2 linked regions of the Homo sapiens genome follow. The protein of the gene in region 1 interacts with the protein of each later gene in a pairwise test. Each region holds a gene or a part of one and is shown on either strand. Other genes may lie near its edges.

Region 1 (3,500 bases):
GTGCAGCTGTAGCCCGGGGGCTGCCCTGGTTCTGAGGGACAGAAGTCCAACTCAAAACAGGCTGAAGCAGAGAATGGAAATCTCAGTGGAAAAAGACAGGACTGGGAGTTGCTTCAGGCATCACTGGATCCAGGAGTCAAAGGGTGTTTTGGGGCATGTATTTTTCCCTCTAAATTCTGCCTTCCTCTGGATTGGTGTCACTCTCAGGGTGACTGTCCCCTTCACCAGCAGTGCCAGGCTTATATTCTCCAGCCTTGCTTCCTGCCGGCTGTGCCACCCTGGCTGAAGGAGAGTGTCTCTCTTTTTTTTTTTTTTTTTTTCTTGAAATGGAGTCTTTCACTCTGTTGCCCAGGCTGGAGTGCCATGGCATGATTTCGGCTCACTGCAACCTCTGTCTCCTGGGTTCAAGCGATTCTCCTGCCTCAGCCTCCTGAGTAGCTGTGATTACAGGCATGAGCCACTGTGCCTGGCCGAGAGTTTCTCGTTCCCAGTACTTCAGCCGACATTCTGGGTTCAGTCCTCATTGGCTGGGATTGGTTGAATGCCCATTTGTGAACCAATCACTGAGAAGCTGCTTGGGCAGCGCCATGCCGTGTGCTAAGTCTGTGGCCCTGGGCGGTGGAGGGATGGCCACATGGGTGATGGGAGAAGAAGATAAGTAGTTTCCCGGGTGAAAGTTGGGTGCTGTTATAGGAAGGTGCCCTGCCGGACAAGTAAGCAGGCAGCGTCCTTTTGTGGGTGTGGGGTGCCCTCCCCACTGGGGTTGCTGGTGTAGTGGCCACTAGGCTGCCATCCCTGGTGGAGATGTGCTTGAGCTCATAGCTTAGTTCAGTTCCCAAGGCCTGGATCGTGTTCATTTCCTGACACTCATGGTCTCCAGGTCTGGGAAGTCCCCTCCTGCCTGGTATGTGAAGGGGCCCAGTGGATGCCGTGACCCCATTGTCAGGCAGGGAAACTGAGGCTCCAAGTGACTTGTCCCAGGTCACTTAGCTGGGCCTCCATTTTAGAATCTGGGACTCCTGGTCAACTCTTTCCTTGTGGACAATTTTGGAGGAAGGTCCTGATTATAGCTCTCAGTGTGGCTGGCCATTTTGGAAATGGAGGCCCGCAACTAAGGGGTAGAGAGTGTGGATGGCCCTGTGCAAACACGTCACCAGATGTGGCTTTGGAAAAACACATCTTGGTAATGGCAGGGCTCAGAGTCTAGAGTTTCTTCAGATTCTCAGTGATTGCTTCACAGATGGGCACATGGCGAACCCCAGCACTATTGATGGGTCTTTGTGGGGGCCGTGCAGTGCACTGTGGGATAGTGAGTAGCATCCCTGGCCTCTGCCCACTGATGCCAGTAGCACTCCTGCCCCAGGTGTGTCCACCAAGATCTCTCCAGGCATTGCCAGCTGTCCTCAGTTGAGAAGTGCTGGGTTAGAAGGTTGACCCGTGAGTTAGGGTCTTAGACCAAGGACCCCTGTCATTCTGAGATGTGTCTGCTGACTTGTTTTCTGGTTTTGAGAGTTCCGTGTTACCAAAGAATAACAGACCATGATTGGTCGACTGCTTATGCTTTCAGGTGCCTTTTTGTCTGTCTCTTGGTCATCTGTAGGTTATTCCTTTATTTCTATTTTTTAAAATTATTTTCATTCATTCATTCATTCATTCAGAGATGAAGTCTCGCTCTGTTGCCCAGGCTGGGGTGCAGTGGTGCAATCTCGGCTCACTGCAACCTCTGCCTCCCGGGTTCAAGCAATTCTTCCTGTCTCAGCCTCCCGAGTAGCTGGGATTACAGGTGCCCGCCACCACGCCCAGCTAATTTTTGTACTTTTACTAGAGACAGGGTTTCACCATGTTGGCCAGGCTGGTCTCAAATTCCTGACCTTAAGTGATCATCCTGCCTCGGCCTCCCAAAGTGCTGAGATTACAGGTGTGAGCCACCATGCCTGGCCTTACTTTTTTTGAGATAGTGTCTTGCTCTGTCACCCAGGCTGGAGTGCAGTGGCGCAATCACGGCTCACCACAGCCTTGATCTCCTGGGCTCAAGCGATCCTCCCACCTTAGCCTCATGAATACTAGGACTACATGCATGTACCACCATGCTTGGTTGTTGTTTTTTGTTATTGTTGTTGTTGTTTTTGAGATGGAGTTTTGCTCTGTCACCCAGGCTGGAATGCAGTGGTGCTATCTTGGCTCACTGAACCTCTGCCTCCCGGGTTCAAGTGATTCTCCTGCCTCAGCCTCCCAAGTAGCTGGGATTATAGGGGCCTGCCACCACACCCAGCTGATTTTTATATTTTCAGTAGAGACAGGGTTTTGCCATTTTGGCCAGGCTGGTCTCGAACTCCTGACTTCAGGTGATCTGCCCACTTCAGTTTCCCAAAGTGCTGGGATTACAGGCATGAGCCACCACACCCAGCCCCTGGTTGTTTTCTTAAACCGCCCCCCCACTTTTTTTTTTTTTTGAGACAGAGTTTCGCTCTTGTTGCCCAGGCTGGAGTGCAATGGTGCGATCTTGGCTCACTGCAACCTCTGCCTCCCGGGTTCAAGCGATTCTCCTGCCTCAGCCTCCCGAGTAGCTGGGATTACAGGCATGCACCACCATGCCCAGCTAATTTTGTATTTTTAGTAGAGACGGGGTTTCTCCATATTGGTCATGCTGGTCTTGAACTCCCAACCTCAGGTGATCGGCCCACCTCAGCCTCCCAACGTATTGGGATTACAGGCTTGAGCCACTGCACCCGGCCTTGGTTGTTTTCTTTAATTAATTTTTTATAGAGACGGGGTCTTGCTATGTTAGTCAGGCTGGTCTCAAACTCATGGCCTCAAGTGATCCTCCTGCCCTGGCCTCCCAAAGTGCTGGGATCATAGGCGTATGTGCTGGGACTATAACATCATGCCTGCTAGCTATTTCTTTAGAAAAATGAGAAGAAGGCCGGGCGTGGTGGCTCACGCCGGTAATCCCAACACTTTGGGAGGCCGAGGCAGGCAGATCATGAGGTCAGGAGATCGAGACCATCCTGGCTAACATGGTGAAACCCCATCTCTTCTAAAAATACAAAAAAAAAATTAGCTGGGCGTGGTGGCAGGCACCTGTAATCCCAGCTACTTGGGAGGCTGAGGCAGGAGAATGGCGTGAACCCAGGAGGCGGAGCTTGCAGCGAGCCGAGATGGCGCCACTGCACTCCAGCCTGGGCGACAGAGCAAGACTCTGTCTCAAAAAAAAAAAGAAAAGAAAAGAAAAATGAGAAGAAAAATAGTATTGTCAGTAATTATCCCTTGAGCTCATACTATCAAGTATTATTCTAGATGCTCTATGCTGTACTTACTCATTTAATCCTCACCAGGCTATTGTCTGTGAGGTAGGCTTGAGGTTATCCCGGCTTTTCAGGTATGGAAAATAAGGCAGAGAGGTTTAAGGACTTTCTGAAAGTCACAAGACTACCTGGGAGGCAGCATCACTCCTCCAACCCCGAGAGTTGAGATGGGGAACTGCGGTTGCGAGAGGCACT
Region 2 (3,500 bases), on another chromosome or scaffold:
CTACTTGTCCAATTTCCTTTTCCATTTGGAATCTTATATATGTTAGTCCCAGGACCCTGTCTAGGGAGAGGCCCTCCAGAAAGGTCAACTGAGAAGGAAGCTGATAGGGCATCTCCTTAGATTTATGGACATTTACATTAACAATATATGGCTCTGACTTTTATTCCAGTGGGAAGATGGTTGGGAGGTGAGGGCTTGGCAAGATCTTAGGAAAACCACACTCAGTGTGTCCCTCCTCCTCCCCACAGCCCTACCCTCCATCTACACTTCTTTCATTATTTCTATAAAGATGGAATATGGCTTAAATATGCATGAAGAGCAGCCTATATCAAAGGTTCCAGAGCGTAGCCATCAAGAACAATAGGTAGGCATGTCATAAGGATAAGAGCTGTTAGAGGTGAGAAGAGTCCCTCAAAGAAAATTGTGAACTAGGTAATAGGAACTCCCCCACCCCCGTGAACACTTAAATACACACTTGAGCTTGTAAGAAATTAACACTCAATTTAAGTGTGGCATAGTGGCTCATGCCTATAATTCCAGCATTTAGGGAGGCCGAGGAGGGAGGATTGCTTGAAGCCAGGAGTTTGAGACCAGCCTGGGCAACAAAGTAAGACCCCTGTCTCTACACACAAACAAATGAACAAACAAACCAAAAACCACACACAAAAATTAGCCAGGTGTGGTGGTGTGCACCAGGAGTCCCAGCTACTTGGGAGGCTGAGGCAGGAGGATGGCTTGAGCCCAGAAGGTTGAGGTTACAGTGAGCTATGTTAGCGCCACTCCACTAAAAAAAAAGGTGCCCACGGACAAGAAACAAATGCAAAGTAGTGGGGGAACTCAAGCTGAAGCTTCATAGAGGGGTTCTGGAGGGGAGTGGGGTGTTAGTCTTGGCACTGTGGAGGCTTTAATGCCCAAGGAAGGGACCAGAATTGAGGTATTAGACCTGGGATGGGAGGAGCATTGAAACTGAGCAACCAATAAAAGGATCATGGGATGAGGGGAGGGGAACTTTCTAATTATATCATCAAATATGAAATCATGGTGGAAACAGTATTTAGAATATAAAAATAATAAAATACATATTTAAAAAACATGGAGAGGGGACTTTGGATTAGGCAATGGTTTCTTAGACATCTAAAGCACGAACAGCCAAAGAAAAAGGCAAGTCAGACTTCATTAATATTAAAAACTTGTGATTCAAAGGACACCATCAAGAAAGTGAAAAGCCAACAAGAGAATGGGAGGAAATATTTGCAAGTCATATATCTGATAAGGGTCTAATATTCAGAATATATATGAAGAACTCTTTTTTTTTTTTTTTGAGATGGAGTCTTGCTCTGTCGCCCAGGCTGGAGTGCAGTGGCGCAGTCTCGGCTCACTGCAAGCTCCGCCTCCTGGGTTCACGCTATTCTTCTGTCTCAGCCTCCCGAGTAGCTGGGACTACAGGCGCCTGCCACCACGCCCGGCTAATTTTTTTTGTATTTTTAGTAGAGATGGGGTTTCACCGTGTTAGCCAGGATAGTCTCGATCTCCTGACCTCGTGATCCACCCGCCTGGGCCTCCCAAAGTGCTGGGATTACAGGCGTGAGCCACCGCGCCCGGCCAATATATGAAGAACTCTTATAATGCAATAATAAAAAACAAGTAAAAAATGGGCCAAGGATTTGAATGAGATATTTTCCCAAAGAAGATATACAAATGGCTAATGAGCACATGAAAAGATGCTCAACATCATTACTTATTAGGAAAATGCAAATCAAAACCACTTTGAGATACCACTTTATATCTACTAGCATGGCTATAATTAAAAAGCTGGACAATAACAAGTGTTGGAGGGTATATGGAAAATTAGGAATCCTCATACACTGGTGGTGGGAAGTAAAATGGTGCTTTGGAAAATAGTTTGGCAGTTTCTAGAAAATTTAAACACAGAGTCACCATATAACCCAGCAATTCTACTCTTAGGTATATATCCCAAGGGAACAGAAAGCATGTTCACACAAAAACTTGCCTGTGAGCTTCCATAGACATTATTCATACTAGGGAACAAGTAGAAACAACCCATGTGTCCATCAGCTGAATGAATGGATGAGCAAAATGTATTATATCCATACAATGGGATATTATTCAATTACAAAAACAAATGAAGTATTGTGACATGCTATCACATGAATGAACCTTGAAAATATGCTAAGTGAAAGAAGTATAGATACAAAAGGTCACATATTGAATGCTTCCATTTATGTGAAATCCATAGAGACAGAAAGATTAGTGGTTGTCAAGGGTTGGAGCAGGAGAGAGAAATGGGGACTCCTGCTAAATGGGATGGAGTTCCTTTTTGGGGTATTGAAAATGTTCTGAAATTAGATAATGGTGATAGGTTCACAGGCTTGGAATTATGCTAAAAACCAAGGCATCGTACAATTTAAAGAATGGATTTTATGGTATGTGAATTATATCTCAATAAATAGTAATTAAAAACCATGCAGGGAGCAAATAAAGCAATTATTAAAGGGCAATTTATAGCCTAACATATTTATATTGAAAAAGAAGATTAAAAATTAATGAGTTAAGCACCTTAAGAGGTTAGAATGAGAAAAACCCAATAAAAAGAAAAGGAAGAAATTTTTTAAGTTTTGTAAATTGTTAGAATCAGTAAAACCAAAAATAGGGTTTTTTTTTTTTCTTTTTTTTTTTAAAGGCCAATTAAATAGGCACCTCTGGCAAGGCAGACCAGGGAAAAGAGAGATGGCACAAATTGATGAGGTTAGTGTGAAAAAGGGAACATAACTACAGAGAAAATGAAGATTTTAAAAAGTCATTAAGGACATTTTCATACTTTCATTTTTAACTTAAATGGACAATTTCATGGGAAATATAACCTACAAAACCAAGTCAATATGAAGCCGAAAACCTGATTCAACTTAGAATCATTTAAGACATTTAATAAGCAGTTCAAAACCTATCTTCTAGAACCCTACATGATTTATACTGTCTTACGGTAGTGTTCTACTAAACATGCAAAGTGCAGATTGTTGCAATATTATGCAAATCTGTCCAGATAATATAAAAAGGGGAAACATGCCCTAATTTATTGTATAAAGTTAATATGATCTTGGAACGAAAGCTGGAGAATGATATTACGAGAAAAGAAAATTGGGGACCACTCTTATTTATGAACATAGAAACAAAAATAATAAAATATTAGCAAATAAGTGTTTTAAAAAATACAATGAACAAGATGAGTAAGAATGATTTAACATTAGATAATCTATTAATACATATTACTATATTATTAAAGAAATGGTACAATTTTGTAGCTATAGAAAAGTCAACAAAATTTAATGTTCTTACATAATAAAAATTTAGTACACTAGCAACGGAATGAAAATTCCTTAACTTGAAAGGAAATCTATTAGAAAAAGTATATTAAACGTTAAACTTAATGGTAAATAGAGGGATTTTCTTTAACAAGAGGAATAAAGCAAAGATAGTCATTA

What was found. The genes of interacting proteins can lie anywhere in the genome.
Region 2: the proteins of TMEM120B (region 1) and SLC10A1 interact in binary tests that used the Homo sapiens proteins (3 or more experiments, as listed by UniProt).

Annotation. Positions count from the first base shown.
Region 1 is NC_000012.12:121,743,752-121,747,251, forward strand, and holds part of TMEM120B (transmembrane protein 120B), read left to right. Parts: intron 1-3,500. UniProt on the Homo sapiens protein: Necessary for efficient adipogenesis. Does not show ion channel activity.
Region 2 is NC_000014.9:69,787,242-69,790,741, forward strand, and holds part of SLC10A1 (hepatic sodium/bile acid cotransporter), read right to left. Parts: intron 1-3,500. UniProt on the Homo sapiens protein: As a major transporter of conjugated bile salts from plasma into the hepatocyte, it plays a key role in the enterohepatic circulation of bile salts necessary for the solubilization and absorption of dietary fat and fat-soluble vitamins.